7 linked regions of the Homo sapiens genome follow. The protein of the gene in region 1 purifies or fractionates together with the protein of each later gene. This does not show direct contact. Each region holds a gene or a part of one and is shown on either strand. Other genes may lie near its edges.

What was found.
Region 2: the proteins of H2AB2 (region 1) and PINX1 purify together in Homo sapiens (affinity purification with mass spectrometry, with the first as the bait; one large-scale study listed by BioGRID). This does not show direct contact.
Region 3: the proteins of H2AB2 (region 1) and MPHOSPH10 purify together in Homo sapiens (affinity purification with mass spectrometry, with the first as the bait; one large-scale study listed by BioGRID). This does not show direct contact.
Region 4: the proteins of H2AB2 (region 1) and THAP12 purify together in Homo sapiens (affinity purification with mass spectrometry, with the first as the bait; one large-scale study listed by BioGRID). This does not show direct contact.
Region 5: the proteins of H2AB2 (region 1) and RSBN1L purify together in Homo sapiens (affinity purification with mass spectrometry, with the first as the bait; one large-scale study listed by BioGRID). This does not show direct contact.
Region 6: the proteins of H2AB2 (region 1) and DHX36 purify together in Homo sapiens (affinity purification with mass spectrometry, with the first as the bait; one large-scale study listed by BioGRID). This does not show direct contact.
Region 7: the proteins of H2AB2 (region 1) and RRP12 purify together in Homo sapiens (affinity purification with mass spectrometry, with the first as the bait; one large-scale study listed by BioGRID). This does not show direct contact.

What each region holds. Positions count from the first base shown.
Region 1 is NC_000023.11:155,379,347-155,381,799, forward strand, and holds H2AB2 (histone H2A-Bbd type 2/3), read left to right. Parts: upstream 1-1,362; 5' UTR 1,363-1,440; coding exon 1,441-1,788; 3' UTR 1,789-1,953; downstream 1,954-2,453. UniProt on the Homo sapiens protein: Atypical histone H2A which can replace conventional H2A in some nucleosomes and is associated with active transcription and mRNA processing.
Region 2 is NC_000008.11:10,826,376-10,829,875, reverse strand, and holds part of PINX1 (PIN2/TERF1-interacting telomerase inhibitor 1), read left to right. Parts: intron 1-3,500. UniProt on the Homo sapiens protein: Microtubule-binding protein essential for faithful chromosome segregation. Mediates TRF1 and TERT accumulation in nucleolus and enhances TRF1 binding to telomeres. Inhibits telomerase activity. May inhibit cell proliferation and act as tumor suppressor.
Region 3 is NC_000002.12:71,147,634-71,150,601, forward strand, and holds the end of MPHOSPH10 (U3 small nucleolar ribonucleoprotein protein MPP10), read left to right. Parts: intron 1-365; coding exon 366-473; intron 474-1,589; coding exon 1,590-1,820; intron 1,821-2,232; coding exon 2,233-2,382; 3' UTR 2,383-2,468; downstream 2,469-2,968. UniProt on the Homo sapiens protein: Component of the 60-80S U3 small nucleolar ribonucleoprotein (U3 snoRNP). Required for the early cleavages during pre-18S ribosomal RNA processing. Part of the small subunit (SSU) processome, first precursor of the small eukaryotic ribosomal subunit.
Region 4 is NC_000011.10:76,371,133-76,374,632, forward strand, and holds part of THAP12 (52 kDa repressor of the inhibitor of the protein kinase), read right to left. Parts: intron 1-3,500. UniProt on the Homo sapiens protein: Upstream regulator of interferon-induced serine/threonine protein kinase R (PKR). May block the PKR-inhibitory function of DNAJC3, resulting in restoration of kinase activity and suppression of cell growth.
Region 5 is NC_000007.14:77,748,459-77,751,958, forward strand, and holds part of RSBN1L (lysine-specific demethylase RSBN1L), read left to right. Parts: intron 1-965; coding exon 966-1,606; intron 1,607-3,500. UniProt on the Homo sapiens protein: Lysine-specific demethylase that specifically demethylates methylated lysine residues of proteins.
Region 6 is NC_000003.12:154,317,988-154,321,487, reverse strand, and holds part of DHX36 (ATP-dependent DNA/RNA helicase DHX36), read left to right. Parts: intron 1-3,500.
Region 7 is NC_000010.11:97,394,841-97,398,340, forward strand, and holds part of RRP12 (RRP12-like protein), read right to left. Parts: intron 1,462-3,500; coding exon 1,378-1,461; intron 1-1,377.

The sequences.
Region 1 (2,453 bases):
ACCCGGCATCTGGGGACGGCAGAGGGTATCACACGGCGAGAGGGCAAGAGCGTGTATGTCGTTTCAGGCCTCTCTTCCTATTCTTATAAAGCCACCAGTCGCATCCTGGGGGTCTCACCCCGATGACCTTATCTAATCCTAATTACCGTCTCAGAGGCTGCGCCTCCAATCAACATGTGAATTTGGGGATTAAGTTTCCAAGACACACAATTTGGGGGATGCACTCAAACCACAGCAACATCATTAGCCATTTGGGAAATACGAATGAAAACCACCATGAGATAGCACTTGACACCCAGTAGGATGGCTACTGTAAACAAAACAAAATGAGGCAAACAGAAAACAGGTTTTGATGAGGCTGTGAAGAAATTGGGACTCTCATGCACTACTGTTGGGAATGCGAAAGATTACAGCTGCTGTGGAAATCAGTTTGGTGGTTCCTCAATAAGTTAAACAGAATTACCACACGAGCCAGCAGTTTGACTGCTAGAAATAGACCCAAAAGAACTGAAAAGAGATATTCAAAGAAAAACCTGTAGAGAGATGGTCATGGCAGTGCCACTCACAATAGCCAGAAGGGGGAAATAACCTGTCCATCAACTGACGAGTGGGTAAACAAAATGTGGCCTCCTATTCATACAACAGAATCGTACTCAGTCATTCAAAGGAAGGAAGTAGTGATTCATGCCTCTACATGGATGCACCCTGATGAAACCATTACGCTAAGTGAAAGCAGCCAGACACACACGGCCTCACATTTGGTCGTATAATTCCATCTATAGGAAATCTCCAGAACAGGCTAACCTCTATGGACAGAAAGCAGATGGACTAGGGGTTGCCAGGGACTATCGGGAACGTGTGTATGGGCGGGGGCAGGGGGTGTGTGTGGGAGGGTGTGGGGGCTGGTAGTGGTGGTGTGGAAGGAGGCGTGCGGCAAGTGACTGCTTATAGGTACAGGGGTTTCGGTTTCTTTTCGGGGTGTTGAAAACGTTTTGGAACTAGGTGGTCGTGATGGATGTGCAACATTGTGAAGGCGTGGTACCCGTCCTCCCCTCGCCCACCCCTTTGTCTTTCCCACGGTGTTCCCATCCAGTAGAAAGGGAAAGTTCCCACTGGCAAAGAGAGGGTCACCAGCGCGATTCCCCCTGCCCCGCCCCACCCCACCCCCACGGCCCTCCAGCCACTTCTAGGCCCAGGCCTGCTCCCTCGAGGCCAATGGGAAAGTGATGAGGTCACCTGACGGACGTGTGTCCCTTGTGAGGGGCCGTCACCACATGCGTGCCCGTCGCCGGATGTGCGTGCCCATTGGTCTCGGCTCCCTAGCCAATGAGGGGCTGGGCCCTGGTCGCTAGGATACACAGTACTGGACGCGGTAACTGTCCTCTTGAGAGCCATCTTGCCTAGCTGGGCCAAGCCGAGATAGCACACTCAACGCCCAGCATGCCGAGGAGGAGGAGACGCCGAGGGTCCTCCGGTGCTGGCGGCCGGGGGCGGACCTGCTCTCGCACCGTCCGAGCGGAGCTTTCGTTTTCAGTGAGCCAGGTGGAGCGCAGTCTACGGGAGGGCCACTACGCTCAGCGCCTGAGTCGCACGGCGCCGGTCTACCTCGCTGCGGTTATTGAGTACCTGACGGCCAAGGTCCTGGAGCTGGCGGGCAACGAGGCCCAGAACAGCGGAGAGCGGAACATCACTCCCCTGCTGCTGGACATGGTGGTTCACAACGACAGGCTACTGAGCACCCTTTTCAACACGACCACCATCTCTCAAGTGGCCCCTGGCGAGGACTAGCTTCTGACACCCGGCCCCTGGGACCTGACAGGTCCACTCGTCCACCCACCCGGCCCCAAATCCCCCGGCCTGAACCCCCGGCCTTAAACACCCTCCCCCCACAACCCAGGCCCCAAAGTCTTGGGCCTTCATTAATTCTGTCAATAAAATGTTTCAAGGAAGCCATCTGCCCGCTTCAGTCACTTTGCCTTGGGGTGGGGGTGGGGGGGCGGTGAGATGGGTTGGGGGGTTGTGAGACCTCCACAGCTGGAGGGATGGAGAGGTGGTGGGGGTCTGGGGTTGGGTGGGAGCCAGGGATGGCACAGAGGAGCCGTCTCTCCGGGTGACAGTGCAGGGGAGTGGCCCTGGGTGGGAAGGGGACACCCCCGCTGGTTCTGAGCAAGTCAGGGCCTGCCCGGGAAAGTCCTCAGCATGATGGTGTTCGTTGGGGCGGGTGGGCCTCAAGACCATGACTGCAGTGTTGCGACAGGACGGACTTCTAAGGCAACCGGGGTGGGGACGGAGAGGTGGACCCGGTGCTTGGCAAGGGGCCCTGGACCGGAAGACGGAGGACTGAGTAGTCGGGGCGGGGGGGGGGGGGGGGGACAACAGTCCAGAAATGCGCAGACATGGAATTAGGGTCACGAGTTTCCTTTGGGTCATGTTCAGATGGAGAGGCTGTGGGA
Region 2 (3,500 bases), on another chromosome or scaffold:
CCTGTCTCTCCTAAAAATACAAAATTAGCTGGGCGTGGTGGCGTATGCCTGTAATCCCAGCTACTTGGAGGCTGAGGCAGGAGAATCGCTTGAACCTGGGAGGCGGAGTTTGTGGTGAGGCGAGATCACGCCATTGCACTCCAGCCTGGGCAACAAGAGTGAAACTCCATCTCCAAAAAAAAAAAGAATGTAAGAATGTAAGCATGAACATATAAGACTTGGAGATTAAATAGAATGCAGTGGTTTAGAGACAAACACCAGAGTTAGACTGCCTGGATTTTAATCCTGGTCTGACTTTTCATTTGTATGACATTCGGTAAATTGCTGAACATGGCTGTACCTCGATTTCCTCTTTGGTTAAATGGAAGCAGTAGTATCATCTTTGGAAGGTTGTTGTGAGGACTAAATGCATTATAACATCTAAGAAAAGCAAGCAGAGATACTCAGCACTGTAAGCCTCCTGATAGTGTGGCTGGCAAATCTAGAGCCATAAACCACGATTAAGGCCAGAAAATTTACTTTACTCTGAAGGATTTCATAAAGAATCTAGGGTTTTATTTTCTCTCTCTCTTTTTTTTTTTTTTTTTTTTGAGATGGAGTCTTGCTCTGTGGCCCAGGCTGGAGTGCAGTGGCACAATCTTGGCTTACCGCAACCTCCGCCTCCCGGGTTCAAGCGATTCTCCTGCCTCAGCCTCCTGAGTAGCTGGGATTACAGGTGCACACCACCACGCCTGGCTAATTTTTGTATTTTTAATAGAGACGGGGTTTCACCATGTTGGTCAGGCTGGTCTCCAACTCCTGACCTTGTGATCCACCCACCTCAGCCTCTCAAGGTGCTGGGGTTACAGGCTTTAGCCACTGCACCTACCCTCATGATTAGTAGATCACAGTGAATAAAATTAGCAGATCTGTTATACATTTTAATGAATGCTTATTAAACACATCTCTTTGGCAGTGCACCTCCTGATGAGCTGGGTTAGCGTAGGGGTGTGAGGGCCGGGCCAGCTGCTTTGATTGCTGCTTTGACAACAGTATTTTCCCTTGTCCCTCATTGATCCCGGTAAGAGGAAAGTTGTGCCTTTCCTTTGTAAAGTGGGAGGGGATACCCGGGAAAGGACGGCCAGATTGGTGCATAAGTCAGACTCCGAGCAGTTTCAGGCATGAGTGCACGTGAACAAATAGATAGAAAGTGATTCCTCAAGGCCTGGCGGTGCTCACGCATCCTTCTTGATACCTGCATGCTGAGAAGGTAGAGACGCTCACCAGGTGATTCTTCTGCCCTCTCAAGGCTGAGAGAGCTGCTCTGTGAGGGCACGGCGTGGTGCTTCAGGATGTGGCCTCTGCGTCATGTCTGCCTGGGCTTCGGTCCCATCGCGGGGGCTTCCTGGGTGTGCCTTATCAGTGTCGTCCTCTGTAGTGAGTTCAGGCATCACAGCAGCTCTCTTATGGAGTGGCTGTGGGAAGGAAATCCAAGAATTCATGGAAAGCCTCCAGTCCAGCGCCTCGTCCCTCATACACTTGCAGTCGGTAGGAGCCGCTTTAAGCTGATAACTTCCTCTGTGATTTGTGATTGGAACATCAGCATTGAAAATGTTATGTGCCATATGAAGTGCAAAAGAGAAGAATTTACTGGTAGGATGTCTTTGCAAAAAATCCAAGGTGTCCCTGGGAAGTGGCTGCAGAAGAGAATGTTTCAGCTTGTGGAAATAATGAGCCCGTGCTGGGCTTTGCCTCAAGTGCGGAACATCTGCCTTCACGTTCTTTCGAGCCTGCTGTATAGTTCCCATAGGGAACTATACCTTTGAAATAAGTGACTCCTGGGAGGGGTTGCAGTGCAGTCACATGTTGTTGAATGGACACGTGCTTGTTTCGCTCCACTGTCAGGGTGAGAGTTTCTTTTTTTCCAATTTCTCTTATATCCTCTGAAGAAGGTTGGTTTGTTGGATTTTTTTTTTTTTTTTTTTTGAGATGGAGTCTCGCTCTGTCACCCAGGCTGGAGTGCAGTGGCGTGATTTCGGCTCGCTGCAAGCTCTGCCTCCCAGGTTCACGCCATTCTCCTGCCTCAGCCTCCTGAGTAGCTGGGACTACAGGTGCCCGCCACCACGCCCGGCTAATTTTTTTTTTTGTATTTTTAGTAGAGACGGGGTTTCACCATGTTAGCCAGGATGGTGTCGATCTCCTGACCTCATGATCTGCCTGCTGCGGCCTACCAAAGTGCTGGGATTACAGGCATGAGCCACCGCGCCCGGCTGCTTTTTTTCCAGTTTCTCTAACCTCATATCTGAATGTTCTTAAAACTGTAGGAAAATTTAGTCTCTCTTCTGCCTATGATCGTTTCTGTGGCACTCTTCTGTCTGAACTTGACAAGCAGATACAGGTGAGAGAATGCAGGTGGCTAGCTAATTTATAATTGACTCTAACCCCAGATCAACCTGCTCTGATCAACCTTTCAGGCAAGGACCTACTTTCTGGCTCACATTTTCCCTTCCGTCAAAGGCGTTACCACTCGGATGTCTTCCTCAATGGTGTGTTCCTGCTCCTTTTGCCCTTCCAGTTGTCCTTCCCGAAACCCTGAAAAGGTGGCTTGGAGCTATTGCTGCTCCTCCATGCGTCACCTAATCGTCATCTCTGATCTGTATTTAGGTGATCATTTAACCTGTCTTACCTTTATTTACTTTTTAAAGGAACTTTTTATTTTGAAATAATTACAGGCTTGTAGGAATTCGCAAAATAATTCAGAGAGTCCTGAACGTCTTTCCCCCTGTTCTCCCAGGGTGGAGAGACATTACATTGCTGTGGCTTTTCGCAACCGGGAAGTTGACATTTGGTGTTACTGTCAACTGCACCACAAACCTTAGCCAGTTTTCATCATCTTTTTTTGGTCTCCATTCATTTGTACATGGGCGGATGGTTCTGTGCAATTTTATCACAAGTGCAGATTCATGCAGCAACCACAATGGTGAAGATACAGGATTGGCCACCACGGCACAGCAACCTCATGCCTCATCTTTGTATTTGTACCCACTGTACCTTCATCCTTGTCCCCTCGAAACCATTCATCTGTCCTCTCTCTCTGTAGTTTTGTCATGTCGAGAATGTTCTGTAGATGGAGTCATATGTTATGTTTGTAGATGGACCTCTGACTAAGCACAATGCCCTGGAGTTTGTTTTGGCCATTGCGGTGGCAGCGGCCGCCGCTCTTTACTGTGGAGTGGTATTCCACTGTAAGGATGGCCCAGGGGTTGCTCAGCTGTTCATGCATTCACACGTTGAAGGACTTGGGGGTGATTTTTGGTATTTTGCTATGATGAATAAGGCTAATGTGAACATTTGTGTCTAGGTTTTGTGTGAACACAAGTTTCCATTTCTTCCTCAAGGATTTTCTAAATTTCTGGAGGGCAGCCTGGCCTGATCCATAGTATGCAAATTAAGGAAATATTTCTAATCATTTGACTCCTAGAAAGAAAACAGAGATCCAGCAGAAGGGTGCTGTTGCAGAG
Region 3 (2,968 bases), on another chromosome or scaffold:
GTGCACTCCAGCCTGGGCAACAGAGCAAGGCTCTGTCTCAAAAGAAAAAAAAAAAGAAAAAGAAATACATGCTGTTGGAATGGTTTTGAGACAGAAAACCCTAAAATACCCAGGTCTCTGGGATCCTGAAGCAGTGCTGCCCCTCAGCACTGCCGTCATGCCAGTCCACTTAGGACTTTGGCTGTCACCATATCTAACATTTTAAATAGTCTCCATTAGGTTTGCTGACTTTCAAGCAAGTGAAAAAAAGATAATCTCCATAAAGTATTTTATATATTATACTTTAAGTTAATAGGTTCACAGTTCACACATTTTGTGTTAGAGTCCCTTCTGGCTTCCCATTGAATGTATTATCTCTTTTCTAGCCTGTACCAGAGATTAAAGTTGTGTCAAATCTGCCAGCCATAACCATGGAGGAAGTAGCCCCAGTGAGTGTTAGTGATGCAGCTCTCCTGGCCCCAGAGGAGATCAAGGTAAGAAGCCAATGTTGAAACCTTAAATGTCTGTTACAAGTTAGTTGATCATAGCCAGACTCCATTTATTTGACGTCATTTGCCTTGCACTTGTAGTTCTTATTCCAATGTATCTCAGCAGTTTCTAAGTATAAGCAAACTAGTAATGTTATAATATTCAAATACCAGTCTCCTATATTCTGGCTTTATTATGAGGTACAGGTTTGAGAGTTACTGTAAGAGCAGTTTTAAAATAGCTAGTATCAATATCTTATTATAATCCAATCTGAATACTAGCAGTGATGTTAAGTTGAAAACAAATGGCTTGCATTGCATATATACTAGCAATAGTTTAGTGTCAGCATTTCCCCCTTATTTTATTCATGTAATGCTAATTAGTAATGGAATCTGAATCTAGAATCGAGCATTTGGTTATCAGAAGAGGCTAGATATATCAAATGCAGCAATCCCTGCCATGTGAACATTGAAGCTTATGCCTTACACAGTAATAATGGTTTCTGCCAGGTGCTCATCTTCCTGGCTGGCTTAGCAGCAGGGCCTTCTTTTTCCCTCCTCACTTGATTTGCTACACCTACACTCACCCCTTCTGTCTGAGCCTCTGCCACCTCAGTGCAGGTGACAGCCCTGGCAGGATAGGCTGGCAGCTGAGGAGAAAAGAGATAGAATTGATCCTCACTAGAGAGATGTTTCCCTTCCCTTCCTCTGTTCCTTGGTCTCTGCCCTCTGGCCTCAGTCCAGTTGCTGTCATTAGCAGCTCAGAGCTGAGGCTGCCTCTGGCATGTCCCTGAAGCCCATTGGAATCTAAATGCTGTGGAGGGCTGGCTCCTCTTGTGCTGTTAGGTTGAGAACCCAACTCTCCATGTTGCCTTCTTGTGAATTAGTTTGGGAACTGAACCGTCACTATAAGAGTCTGTGCCTGTCAAAGAATGCATTTCAGGTTTTAAAGAGCTGAGTTACCAACGCTCATTGGAATGCAGGTGGGGATTGCTCTGCATCTTTGTGCATTTGGCCACAGATGCACAGCCTGCTTGCTGGCTACCCTGCAGTTTCTTCCATTCCAGTTTCCTAGTTGTTAAACTTGATGAATGAATATGTTGGTGGTTATTTTTTTAATAGGAGAAAAATAAAGCTGGAGATATAAAAACAGCTGCTGAAAAAACAGCTACAGACAAGAAACGAGAGCGAAGGAAAAAGAAATATCAAAAGCGTATGAAAATAAAAGAGAAGGAGAAGCGGAGAAAACTGCTTGAAAAGAGCAGTGTAGATCAAGCAGGGAAATACAGCAAAACAGTAGCTTCGGAGAAGTTAAAACAGCTGACCAAAACTGGCAAAGCTTCCTTCATAAAGGTAAGGACAAGGGAAAGAAAACTGCTCAAGGGGACCTTTGTGGGGGAAGTGGATAGCAAGTGCTGGGTGACTGGAATGTCTGAGCCAGCTGACAGCCCACCTGCGGGATAGAGATGCATGATGCTGACTGGCTGGAATCGCAACCTTTAATGTTCTAGAATTTTTCATGTAGGGTCCTCACAATAACCTGGGTCCTGGCAGCAGCTTGTCTTCCACTCCTTTCTCTCTTAGATTATAAGAACATTGTAGCAGTGCAGAATACCTCTATGCTAACTGATTCAGTTTTCTGTAATTCTAGTCCTTTTTCATATTTATGGTTGCATACATTGTTGTAATGGTGATGTACTATTTTTGGCTTTTTTCACTTATAAGTACATTTTACAGCATAAGCATGTGGTGTTTTTAATTGCAGGATGAAGGTAAAGACAAGGCCTTAAAGTCCTCTCAAGCATTCTTTTCTAAATTACAAGATCAAGTAAAAATGCAAATCAATGATGCAAAGAAAACAGAAAAGAAAAAGAAGAAAAGACAGGATATTTCTGTTCATAAATTAAAGCTGTAATATATTTTGAATATAATGTAAATATTAATGTGTAAGCTTATATTGTGTCATTGTTCTGTTTTATAATAAAATTCTTGAGAACCTTCCTTTGCATCGATGACAGATATTTGAGGGTTCCATAGTGTGAAAAGACAAACCCCTAACCATTTGCAAAGCCCTTCCGGTTTTCACTGGTATGAAGCAGGACCTGGCTCCTCCCCAGGCCCTTCCTGTTCAGGCACTGCCTGAGCTGATCCTGCTGTGCTCTTGCCGTGGCCCAGGCCTGTGTGAAGGCCAGGCCAGCTTGTCCACATGGGCTGGTGAGCAAGCACTGGCCTGCAGGCTGTGAAGAGGACAGAGCCAGCCAACCCCCTCACAAGCAGCTGTCTACAGCAGAGGTCCTCACTCTTTGGGCTCTTGATTTCCTTCTCCCATTGCCCTGTCATTTCATAAAACAGTAGCATTTTCATGCCTGTGCCTTCCTTCCCCTTTGGGAAATGATCTCATGTCATCTGAACAAAGGTTTAATGTAGGCTGTAGAGCACTATCCACAATCAGCTGCAGAGGACAGGTATGATGGAGAAGTGAATCTAGAAGCAACAGAAGC
Region 4 (3,500 bases), on another chromosome or scaffold:
CTCTTCCAAACTGGTCATCTGCCCTTCTCTAACCCCTTCTCCGTGCTGCAGAGCATTTTTTAAAGCCAATTTGAGAATGTCTCTCCCATGCTTAAGCTTTTAGTGGCTTCTCATTACTCTCAGGATAAACAACTGTGTTCACTTCTATCCTGGGGCCTTCCCTGCGCTGTTTACTCAGCCTACTACACTCTTCTTGCTGCTTTTTATACACTTCCTATGCACAGTTAACTATGACTCAGCCTTCAGATCTTAGCGCAAATGTCATTTCTTGAGGGAAAGTTTTCCTGACTCACATGTGTACATATATGTGGGTGTATGTGTATGAATATGTATGCACACAGAAAACTCCAGGCATTTAAGACTTTCCACCTCTCCATGTATAATATCTCAACTCCCTACATTTATCTTACTATATTATTCCCACAGTGTAAACATGCCCTAATGTCTCCCATCTTTAAAACTCTCTTAATCCTGATCCTCTTTATAGCAAAACTTGTTAAAGCATCCATTTGGACTGCATCCACTTATCTTGTTGTACTGTCTCCTTAATCAATGCCAAGGAGGCTCCTACTCTATCCCTTTTCCACTGAAACTGCTCAAGAAAATTACTAACGACCCTATCCTGCCAAATCCAACGGTCACTTTCCTGTACAGATTTTATTTCATTTTTAACTTTTCTTTTTTTTTTTTTTTTTTTTTGGTGGAGTCTTGCTCTTGTCGCTCAGGCTGGAGTGCAGTGGCACAATCTTGGCTCCCTGCAACCTCTGCCTCCTGGGTTCAAGCTACTCTACTGCCTCAGCCTCCTGAGTAGCTGGGATTACAGGCACCCCCCACCATGCCCGGTTAATTTTTGTACTTTTAGTAGAGATGGGGTTTCGCTATGTTGGCCAGGCTGGTCTCGAACCCCTGACCAGGTGATCCACCCGCCTCGGCCTCCCAAAGTGCTGGGATTACAGGCGTGAGCCATCGTGCCTGGCCTATCTTTTATTTCATTTTTAAAGTAATGAGAAGAGGTGTCATTATGTTGCCCAGGTGGGTCTCAAACTCCCGGGCTCAAGCGATCCTCCCGCCTAAACCTCACAAAGTGCTGGGATTACAGGCGTGAGCCACTGCGTGCAGCCACTTTCTGTACACACCTTAAACACCTTCAGCACTAGTCAACCATCACTGATTACTTCTTTGTTTTGTTTTTGATGTTTTTCCCTCATTGGTTTCTTACTAATGCAGCATTTCTAAAAGTGTATTCCAAGGAATCCTGTTCAAAGAATTGCTTCTAAAAAAAAAAAAGAGAGAGAGAGACAGGGCCTCAATCTGTCGCCCAGGCTGTAGCACACTGGTGCAATCATAGCTCATTCTAAGTTCAAACTCCTGGGTTTAAGCCATCCTCCTGCCTCAGCCTCTCAAAGTGCTGGGATTACAGGCCTGAGTGACTATGCCCAGTCAGAACTGTTACATTTAAAAAAAAAAAAAAAAAAGGGACCGGGCATGGTGGCTCATAATACCAGCACTTTGAGAGGCCAAGGCAAGAGGATCACTTGAGGCTAGGAGTTCAAGACCAGCCTGGACAATATAGGGAGACCTTGTCTCTATAAAAAATTAAAAAATTAGTCAAGTGTGGTGGCGTGCGCCTATGGTCCCCAGCTACTTGGGAGGCAGAGATGGGAGGATTGTTTGAGCCTGGGAGATGGAGACTGCAGTGAGCAATGATTGTGCTCCTGCACTCCAGCCTGGGTGACAGAATAAGAACCTGTCTCCAAAAAAAAAACAGGGTTCCACGGTCAAAAAAGTTCGGGTAATACCTATTTTATCCTGTCCTACCTGCTCTTAAGGTTTTAGACATTTCTGCAGGGCCTTTAAAAAAGTTAGCTAACCTCTCTGTACCTACTTTGGTCATCTGTAAAGCAAGGACTACCTCAAAATTTACTGCAAGGGTAACATGAAATAATGTATATATAACAGAGAAGTATATAACAGAGCAGTGCCTGTCACAAAGAATACACTACGTAAGTACTGTTCCAGCCTGGGCAACATGGCGAAACCCTGTCTCTACAAAAAATATAAAAATTAGCCAGGCATGGTGGTATGTACCTGCAGTCCCAGCTACTTGGGAGGATAAGGCAGGAGAATTACTTGAGCGCAGGAGGCAGAGGTTGCAATGACTGGAGATCGTGTCATTGCACTTTAGCCTGGGTGACAGTGAGACACTGTCTCAAAAAAAAAAAAAAAAGGAAAAAGAAGTACTATTATTACAACTCACCCCATTGTTTGGAAGATTAAATGAGTTGATATGAAAGTACTTCAGGCTGGGCGTGGTGTCTCACATCTGCAATCCTAAGACTTTGGGAGGCTGAACAAGGGGGGAATGCTTCAGCTCAGGAGTCCAAGACCAGCCTGGGCAACATGGTGAGACCCTGTCTCTAAAAAAAATTTTTTTCAAAAATTAGCCGGGGGTTGTGATGGGCACCTATAGTCCCAGGTATTTGGGTGGCTGAGGCTGGAAGATTGCTTGAGCCCAGGTGGTTGAGGCTGCAGTGAGCCATGCTCCTGCCACTGCACTCCAGCCTGAGTGACAGAGTAAGACCCCTCAAAAAAAAAAAAAGTTTGAAATTTGCTGCTCACATTTTAGAGCAGCAATTCTCAAACTTCATAGTCCCAGGATTCCTTTGCACTATTACATTATTGAGGACTCCAAAGATCTTTTATGTGGATTTTACCTAACAACATTTATCAGAAAAATTTTAAAAATATTTATTAATTCATTAAAATACCAACCTTATGTTAACACAAATAACGTTTTAATAAAAAATTGCATTTTCCAAAACAAAAATATTTAGTGAGAAAAATGACACTTCTTCATTTTTGCAAATCTCTTTAACGTCCAGCTTAACAGAAGACAGCTAGATTCTCACATCTGCTTCTGTATTTAATCTATTGCTATATGTTGTTTTGGTTGAAATATATGAAGAAAATCTAGCCTCATAACGATATGCAGTTAAAAAGGTTATTACAATACTCCTCTTTTTTCCATATAATTGTGAATTCTCCACAAGTGGTAGTTTCTTCAAGATTAGTTGAAATGTGACATCTGAGACCAGACCAATGAGCTTTTTCATGCCCTAGTACATAAAAAATCCCATAGTCTATCTTGCACTTTTATCCATGTATGTCTCTGTAAAACCATAAATTGGTCATTTGGAAAATATTAGTTCAGTGAGTTATACATACCATATAAATGTTAATGCAATTCATTATACAAAAAAAAAAAAAAACACATCAGTATCATCAGTGATCTCACCAGAAAAGTCTTTAAGTATTAGAGAGCTGTCAAGCTCACAGTGGCACATAAATTTTCCAAAATTCTAATTTTCAACTTGAATGCTCAAATTATCAGTTGTTCTCCTTGAAGTGGCAGGCTTGTTTATTTCTGAGAAAATGTCTACTGAACACTCAGATCTGAATAATATTTAGAAAATTCTAGAAAACACAACACAAAATTTATC
Region 5 (3,500 bases), on another chromosome or scaffold:
AGACACTAGGCATAGATGATTCTTTTTTTCTTTATTTTTTTCTTTTTGGGATAGGGTTTCGCTGTGTCACCCAGGCTGGAGTGCAGTGGCACGATCTTGGCTCACTGCAATCTGCCTCTCAGTTCAAGCAATTCTCCTGCCTCAGCCTCCCGGGTAGCTGGGATTACAGGTGCTCACCACCATGCCCAGCTAATTTTTGTGTTTTTAGTAGAGATGGGGTTTTGCTCTCTTGGGCGGGGTGGTCTCGAACTCCTGACCTCAAGCAATCCACTCACCTCGGCCTCCCAAAGTGCTGGGATTACAGGCATGAGCCACTGCGCCTGGCCTGAAGATTGTTTTCTAAAATATTCATTCATCTCCTTATTTCTGTAAACTGTGAGCATTTGCTATATGTCAGAATGGTAGCACACACTGTAGATGTAACTTTGCTCTATGCCCGTCTGTCTGTCTGTCTGTCTCTCTCTTTCTCTCTCTCTCTCTGTCTCTCTCTCGCTGTGTACATGAAGAGACTGGCTGGCTGGGTGTGGTGGCTCACGCCTGTAATCCCAGCACTTCGGGAGGCCGAAGCGGGCAGATCACGAGGTCAGGAGTTTGAGACCAGCCTGGCCAACATGGTGAAACCTTGTCTCTTCTAAAAACACAAGAATTAGCTGGGCATGGTGACGCGCTCCTGTAATCCCAGCTACTTGGGAGACTGAGGCAGGAGAATTGCTTGAACCCAGGAGGTGGAGTTTGCAGTGAGACAGGATTGTGGCACTGGATTCCAGCCTGGGCGACAGAGCAAGACTCTGTCTCAAAAAAGGCTGACTAAATATTGATTATCAATTCTGTAAAAAATGAGTCCTAAATATATAATTCTGAGTAAATTTTCAGAAGTAAACTTCTTACTTAGACAAAACTGTTCCTAAAGCATGGTTTTTAAAGTAATTAAAATATGGAGTTTCAAAAAACATTTTTTCCAACAGGTGGGAAGGAGAAACCAAAAACAAATATAGAAGACTTACAAATTAAAAAGGTAAAGAAGAAAAAGAAAAAGAAACACAAAGAGAATGAAAAACGGAAGCGTCCGAAAATGTATAGCAAATCTATTCAGACCATCTGCTCAGGATTGCTAACTGATGTTGAAGATCAAGCAGCCAAAGGCATCCTAAATGATAACATAAAAGATTACGTTGGGAAGAATTTGGATACCAAGAACTATGATTCCAAAATTCCAGAGAACAGTGAGTTTCCATTTGTCTCATTAAAGGAGCCACGAGTTCAGAATAACCTCAAAAGGTTGGACACTTTGGAATTTAAACAACTCATTCATATAGAGCACCAGCCTAATGGAGGTGCATCGGTTATCCATGCCTACAGTAACGAACTCTCCCACCTGTCTCCTATGGAGATGGAGAGGTTTGCAGAAGAGTTTGTGGGTCTAGTGTTCAGTGAAAATGAAAACTCTGCAGCTTTCTACGTGATGGGTATTGTTCATGGGGCAGCTACTTATTTACCTGACTTTTTAGACTATTTTTCATTTAATTTTCCCAATTCACCAGTGAAAATGGAGATATTGGGAAAGAAAGATATAGAGACAACGACTATGTCCAATTTTCATGCTCAGGTAAGAGGTTTTTAGTTTTATAAAATAACTTTTAATTATATATTTTTAGATGAGTTTCTGTTTTTTGTTCCTAATTATAGGGCTGAAATAAAAAGGTAAGAATATAATGAAACCATTTGGGAGTATTAAGAGTAAATTACTTTCTTGATGTGAGCATCAGAATTTAAAATTCAATTTTCACTTATGTATGTTTTTTTTTAAAGACAATTAATGAAATAATTAAGATTCTGTGTTTTTTTTTTTTTTTTTTTTTTTTTGCAAGGAGTGGTCTTGAACCTAAGGAAATGAATTTAGCCATGTATTTTCCAGTCCTTAAATAGTTTTCTTACCTGGAAATCACCTAAAATTGTCTTCTAGCTTTAGGATGCTTTAAGGTACTTAGCACCAGGCCCATCACATGGTAGGTACTGAAGAAATGTTGGCCATTAAAAATATTGTGGTATGAAGGAATCATCAGTTACTGTGTAATGATGTGTTAAAAGTAGCAATCAGTATATTGAGCTAATTTTCATTTCCTACCCTTCTCTATGGTGGAGAATATATATTATTCTGGAAAGCAGACAGAATAGAGTCTGCTGGGTCTTGAACATCAGTGTGGGCCCATCTGAAAGGCTGGTGCCATTATCACCCATCCTCAGATTGGGACTGTTTAGTCTGGAGATTGGCCAGTTCTCACATTTATTGATGCTGTAGTTTTTGGTTTTCTAGGAACGGTTTTTGGTTTCTAGGACAACATTCTAGTTTGGAAGGAGGGAAAAAGTAAAGGAAGTCTCAAATGGATCTTAGTGATTATTTATCCCAACACCTCTCAATTTACAAATAAGTAAACAGACGTAGAGAGAGAGGAGTAAGGTATTGTTTAACATTGTCAGCAGTGTCAGGATTAGAACAAAATCTTAATCTTCATCCAGGGCTCCTTTCCTTATTCTGAATATGTTCCTTTTTGGATGGGTGCTCAAGTTATAGTTTCCACTTTAAATGGTAGTCTGGATGTTCAGTCACATCCACATGTACCCCGCCCCCAATAGTATGAGTATGTTTGGTGTATATTCTGTAGTAGATTGTAGTCTGGAAAATAATGTGGTGTTTTTTTGTTTTTTGTTTTTTGAGATGGAGTCAGACTGGAGTGCAGTGGTGCGACCTTGGCTCACTGCAACCTCTGCCTTCCGGGTTCAAGCGATTCTCCTGATTCAGCCTCCCAAGTAGCTGGAATTACAGACATGCACCACCATGCCTGGCTAATTTTTGTATTTTTGGTAGAGACAGGGTTTCGCTATGTTGGCCAGGGTGGTCTCGAACTCCTGACCTCAAGTGACCTGCCTGCCTTGGCCTCCCAAAGTGTGGGGATTACAGGCGTGAGCCACCTCGCCCGGCCTGGAAAATAATTTTTAATGTGCGTATGTGGGAATTATTCTCTAACATGTTTGAGAATTGAAAATTAAATATTTTCTAAACTAGATAGGGAGCTATAGAGCATCCATTACTAGCCCTGTCATTTTATAGAAACCCAAAATGGTGAGTTACTTGTCTGAGGTTACACCTGAATATAATGGCAGAATCAGGACTGGCATCTAATAATAGTGTTTACTATTTATTGAGTACTGACTGTGCCAAGGACTAGTTGTTCTGAGTATTTTATATGTAGTAACTCATTTAATCCTCATTATAATCTTACTTTAGCAGTGAAGAAACAGATCCAGTGAGAGAAGAGATAACATGTTCAAAGTGCCTTATCACCTTATCATTCATTTGTCGTTTATTGCATGTCTCCTAAATGTCCGGTTTTCTATTGGGCCTCTTGGCTCCCATTCCCGGTTATTTCCACAATACCACAAACTTTCTTGCTTTGATACTATGCAAGTTTGCTTCAGTAACCTTTTAAATGTGACAGTAC
Region 6 (3,500 bases), on another chromosome or scaffold:
GGCTATCACCTAACTCAGGGCAAGGTATTTTAGAAGATTTTTCAGGGACAGTAACCCTTAAGTTGAAACTTGAAAGATAACAAAGTGAATGTACGTGTGTGTGTTTGAAGTTTGGGGTTTGGAAAAGATTCCAGGCAAAGGCAGTAGCATGTGCCATAACATAGAGATCAAGGAAGCACATTTTCAGTTCGAGAAACTGTAAAAGATAAGAACATGGATGTGGAGTGTATTGAGATGAGGTTAGGGCAGTCAATTTCAAACTTGTTGGCCACTTTGCCCAAAAAGGAATGTATTTGAATTTACAACCCAGTACACACATATGTATAACTAGATGAAAAGTTTTGTAAAATAATATTTAATTATCTGCACATTGCTTTGAGGTTTTTTTGCTTTTGAACTTCTCTGTTCTCTTTTTATTAATGCTGGTCATGATCCTTTAATATAATTTCAGAAACAGCAATTTGAAAATCTCTGGGCTAGAAAAATACGCGGGGCCTTGAGATACATTGAGTCTTTCTAAGGACTGTAGCAAGTCATTAAAACATTTTAAACAAAGAATGAAATGACTGGATTTTAAATGTTTAAATTCACTCTGGTAGCAGTATAAGGAATGGATTGAAGAGAGGTAATCCTGGTTCAGGGGGACCAGTGAAGTAGCCCTTGCAGTAACTAAGGTGAGAAATGACAGCTTGAATTAGCACGTTGGCAGTGGAGATGGAGGGGAGTGGACAGATTAAAGTGATTTAGGAGGTAGACTCAAAATGATTTTGTGATGTATTTTATCTGAAGGGACGAGTACAGTGTTAATGATGACTCTTTTATGCCTATCTGTAAGGATCAGGCTTGTTGGAAGAAGGCTCAGCTATGGACACTATGAGTTTGATATTGTTATAGGGCATACAAATGAGGATTTGCAGGAGGGAGAGGGCTGTGTAGATCTGATGCCTAGAAAAATCTAGACTGGAGATAAGTATTTGACAGTTAATGGGCTCATGGGTAGTAGTTGGAGTGTGGGAGTGAACAGTCAGAAATAGAGTGGGCCCAGCCTGAATTCTATAGACCATTGCTTCTCAGACTTGAATGTGCATAGGAATCACCTGACATCTTGTTAAAATGTAGGACACTGGTGGGATCAGAGATTCGACTTTTGTTACAGGCTCCCAGGTGATGCCAGTGTTGCTGGTCTGTAGATCACTCAGGCTGTCAAATACGGAAAATGAAAATTTAAGGACAGGCTGAGGAAAAGAAGGTTACAAAATAATCTAGGAAAGATCAGCTAGAGAAGAGAAAAATAAGGTGTGTGTTGTTTTGAAATCTAAGAGTAGTGTTTAAAGGAGAGAAGAGCGTATCAACAAGAAGTAATTGATAGTGGCAAGCATGCACAAATGATGTAAGAGCAGAGAATGTCTATTGGATTTATCAACAAGGTCGTTGATGATCTTAATGGGAGTCCTTTCTGTGGCATTGTGGAAGTAAAAGCCAGATTGCGGTAGGGTGGCAAGTGAAACAGAGATTCAGAAGTGGAACATTTTCCAGTAGTTTTGCTGTGAAGATGAGGAAGAAAAATAGTGCCGTAGCTGATAGGGGTAGGGGAATTCACGAGAGGGTTTTTTGTTTTTAAGGTGAAGAGATTTGACCATGTTCATGCCCTGAGGGAAGCACCCAGTGAAGAGGAAATCAAAGTGGGCAAATCAAAGTGGGCCAAATTATGCTGCAGTAATAACCAACCCCCAAATCTTAATGGTTTATAACAAGCAAGGTTTGATTCTCTACCACATTACTAAAAGAAGCAAACCAGAATATCGGTTGACTGCCTAATGTCTACTGGAGAGGTTAGAAATTTAGGAAAGCAAGGTAAATTTCAGTGAAGGAGGTGGCCCTGAGGACATGAAAGGAACTGGACTGCAGAGCTCAGGTTGAGGGGTTAGCCTTTAAAATGCACTTCTTTTATAACAAGAAAGAAAAGAGAAAAGGATAAATTCTGATACAGGCGGGTTTAGGTTTGGTGATAACCAACTGAGGACCTTTTCTTAGGGCTTTTGTTTTGTGAAAAACTGCGTGTGAATGCTGAGGGCAAACAAAAGGGTGGTATTGGCCTGTTACAGAGAATGGGGAGACAGTGTGAAGTAGTTGCAGATAATTAGAAAGCTGATAACATAAATTTGATGGACATCATTTAGGGTTTCTTGCCAGGAACTGAAAACTAGAAGCAGGGTATTTGAGAATGTCCAAGAAAGTGGGAAATAATCAAAATTCTATGATAAAAGAAAATAGTCATGAAAAAAATGTGTTTTGAGATTCTCCAGGCAAGGAGTGAAATAAAGTGAAGCGTGGTAGAACTAGAAGAAGGTTGTTGAGGGGGAGAGAGGCATCCTACAAAAAGGCAAGATCCAAGTTTGGAATTAAGGTATGTTCTCTGCTACCTGCAGCATCCAGAAACTCATTGTGGGGAGAACATCATTAAAAATACAAATGTTTTTATTTAGAGTGTAAATTACATTTTCAAGGGCTAATCATACATGCTCATTGTAAAAGATTCAGCTGTTCATTCCTTCCATTGACAGACTTCTCTGGGGCACATACCATGTACCAGAATTATATCTGGCAGAGACACTGCAAGAAGTATAGGATATGGAGAGTGAATAACCTCTTTTCAAATTAATAGTAATAAAAACAAGATCCTACTACACAACTGACTTATTTAATACTTTGGTCATCTTTCCTGTTTATATACTTGCAGAAAGATCTACCCACTGTTAACCACTGGGTGTACTACAATTCAACTAATTCCTTATTGATTAGCAGATGCTTACTTGGTACATATGCATTGTGTAAGGTATCTTAAAGTCTACCAACTGATGTTGACTTTTTAATGAAAATGAATTTTGTTGTGATAGTTTGGACTGGAAGATTGTGTAGATCTGTTTATTTTCAGTAGACTGTTATGTTATCCAGTAATTCACCTTTTCCGGGGGCGTGAAATCTCATAAAATTAGAATAATCTTTTGTGCTGTTACGGGCAGGAAGTGGGCAATGTATTGTGAAATGTCAATCTAGGAAATTGTTTACTAAACAAAATATAGAGTAATGAGTTAACATGGAAAAGTGAGAACTGTAGGAATAGCAGATATAGGTTATATTCTAACTAAACAGATACATCAAAAAACCTTAAGAGGACTTTTAGTAGAGACATTTTATGTCCTGACAACTGAAATTAGCCACTCATTTTCACTTCAAAAAAGGAGGTAACATATAGTTCATTTGCTTTGCTTCTTCAGGTTTGTTGTTTTATCACTGATTTCTCATATTTATTACATTAGGTTATCCTCCTACCCATGTAAACTTATTTGAGCTTTCACAAAGCATGTAATACTGATTAGAATTAGAATGTCTTACAAAACCCTGTCTCTTGTCTTAAAGATGCTTATGTCTTGTTCTCCTGGGACACATACTCCTCTACCCACCCTGGGTTTTCAAACTTTATGTTAAACTTTGTTGTG
Region 7 (3,500 bases), on another chromosome or scaffold:
CTTTAAAAATGTAATAACCAGGCTGGGCATGGTGGCTCATGCCTGTAATCCCAGCACTTTGGGAGGCCAAAGTGGGAGAACTGATTCAGCTCAGGAGCTCAAGACAAGCTTGGGCGACATGACGAAACTCTGTCTCTACTAAAAATACAAAAATTAGCTGGGCATGGTGGCAGGCGCCTGTAATTCCAACTACTCAGGAGGCTAAGGCACGATCATCACTTGAACACAGGAGGTGGAGGTTGCAGTGAGCCATGATCACACCACTGCACTCCAGCCTGGGCAACAAAGTGAGACCCTGTCTCCAAAACAAAACAAACAACAACAAAAAAACCCAAAAACAAAATAAAAAGTATATATATACACATATACACACACACACACACATACATACATACACAAATATATTTATTTATTTAATGTAATAAGTAGGCCAGCCATGGTGGCTCACACCTGTAATTCCAGCACTTTGGGAGGCTGAGGTAGGGGGGATCACCTGAGGTTGCGAGTTCGAGACCAGCCGGGCCAACATGGTGAAACCCTGTCTCTACTAAAAATACAAAAATCAGCCAGGTGTGGTGGCGCACGCCTGTAATCCCAGGTACTCAGGAGGCTGAGGCATGAGAATTGCTTGATACCATGAGACAGAGGTTGCAGTGAACTGGGATCGTGCCACTGCAGTCCAACTTGGGCAACGGAGTGAGACTCTGTTTCAAAAAAAAAAAAAAGTAGACCAGGCCTGGTGGCTCAGGCCTATAATCCCAGCACTTTGGGAGGCTGAGGCAGGCAGATCACGAGGTCAGGAGTTCGAGACAAGTCTGGCCAACATAGTAAAACCTCTTCTCTACTAAAAAATACAAAAAATAAGCCGGGTATGGTGGTGTGCACCTGTAATCCCAGCTACTCGGGAGGCTGAGGCAGGAGAATCACATGAACCCAGGAGGCAGAGGTTGCAATAAGTTGAGAACATGCCATTGCACTCCAGCCTGGGCGACAGTGTGAGACTCCGCCTCAAAAAAAAAAAAAAAAAAAGTAATAAGTAGCCAGTTGCAGTGGCTCATGCCTGTAATCCCAACAATTTGGGAGGCCACCGCAAGATGACAAGACGGTTTGAGCCCAGGAATTTGAAACCAGCCTGGACAACATAGTGAGACCCTGTCTCTTTAAAAAAAAGAAACAAAGAAAGAAAGAAAAGAAAAGAGAAAATTAAAAGGTAGCAAATACCACCAGCCTTCCTAAGCCACCTGAGAATAACTGAAGCACTTTCACCTGGTCAAGGTTGTCCTTCTCTACCCCCACATGCCAGGGGCACTCATCTTCTCGCTAAATCTTGCATAACCTGCTGCTCTGAACACCCACCCTCCAGTGGCACCCACTCACCAGAGCAGCGAAGTACTCAGTCTCCGTCTCCTTCCCTCCCTGGGAGCGAATCACCTCAGTGACAGCAGCCAGAACAGCACAGATCTGCACAGGAGGGAGAAAGCACTGTGACTATTTTAGACCTAACCCCACCCCAGGGGAACCTCCTTTCCTTGCTCCTTCACAGATTAATCTCTGGTTAAAGCCCAGAGACAGACAAGACAGGCAACATTCAGGGCCTAGGTCCATACCAGGGGGCCCAGCAAATAACAAGACTCAGAAAATGCTTGCTAAAATTCCACCATGAGGTACTAACCTTCTAGAAATACCTGCATGAGATGAGTGTGCAAATATTTATGTACAAGGATGTTCATGGCAGCAACAAATTGGAATGGTCAAGAAGCCATCAACAGGAGATTAATAATGTACTGTAGTTGTCTCTAATGTACTGCAGTTATCGAGGGGGGGATTGGTTCCAGGACCCCTAAAGATACCAAAATCCGAGGATGCTCAGGTCCCTTATAAAAAATGGTGTAGTATTTGTGTATAACCTATATACATCTTCCCATATACTTTATTTATTTTTTTTGAGATAGAGTCTCACTGTTAGCTAGGCAAGAGTGCAGTGGCATGATCTCAGCTCACTGCAACCTCTGCCTCTGGGTTCAAGCAATTCTCCTGCCTCAGCCTCCCAAGTAGCTGGGATTACAGGTGTGCACCACCATGCCCAGCTAATTTCTGTATTTTTAGTAGAGATGGGGTTTTACCATGTTGACCAAGCTGGTTTTGAACTCCTGGCCTCAAGTGATCTGCCCTCCTTAGCCTCCCAAAGTGCTGAGATTACAGGCATAAGCCACCATGCCTGGCCTCCCATATACTTTAAATCATCTCTAGATTACTGGTAACACCTAACACAATGTAAATGCTATATAAATAGTTGTTATACTGTATTTTTGTTGTTGTTGTTGTTGTTGTTGTTTTTGAGACAGAGTCTCACTCTGTCACCCAGGGTGGAATGCAGTGGCGCACTCTCTGCTAACCGCAGCTTCCACCTCCCGGGTTCAAGCGATTCTCCTGCCTCAGCCTCCTGAGTAGCTGGGATTACAGGCATGTGCCACTACGCTAGGCTAATTTTTTGTACTTTTAGTAGGGATGGAGTTTCACCATGCTGGCCAGGTTGGTTTTGAACTTCTGACCTCAAGTGATCTGCCCGCCTCGGCCTCCCAAAGTGCTAGGATTACAGGCGTGAGCCACCTCGCCTGGTATATTATTATTATTTTAAAAAGATTTTTCAATCCATGCTTGGTTGAATCTGCAGGTGCAGAACCCGCAAATATAGAGACCTGACTGTATCATTATATAATAATGAAAAATTTAAATAGTGCATTATTCAAAAGAATGAGAACAACTATATATTAACTTATAAATATCGTTCAGTAGGGAAAAAGTTGCAGAACAGTGGATAAAAAATAAACTAATCAAGCAGGGCACAATGGCTCACACCAGTAATCCCAACACTTTGGGAGGCTCAGGTGGGCAGATCCCTTGAGCCCAGGAGTTCAAGACCAATCTGGGCAATATGGCAAACCCCATCTCTACAAAAAATACAAAAATTAGCTTGGTATGGTAGCACTCCCCTGTAGTCCCAGCTACTTGGGAATTGGAAGGCTGATCAGCCACTGCACTCTAACCTGGGTGACAAAGTGAGACTCTGTCTGAAAAAAAAGAAAAGAAAAGAAAAGAAACTAATCACATTTTGGTAAACCTAAATAACAAAATTGGGTAAAAAAAAATACGTATATATATATACATATATATATATATATGTATATATATATACGTATTTTTTTTTTTTTTTTTTTTTTTTTTGAGATGGAGTCTCGCTCTGTTGCCCAGGCCGGACTGCGGACTGCAGTGGCGCAATCTCGGCTCACTGCAAGCTCCGCTTCCCGGGTTCACGCCATTCTCCTGCCTCAGCCTCCCGAGTAGCTGGGACTACAGGCGCCCGCCACCGCGCCCGGCTAATTTTTTGTATTTTTAGTAGAGACGGGGTTTCACCTTGTTAGCCAGGATGGTCTCGATCTCCTGACCTCATGATCCACCCGCCTCGGCCTCCCAAAGTGCTGGGATTACAGGCGTGAGCC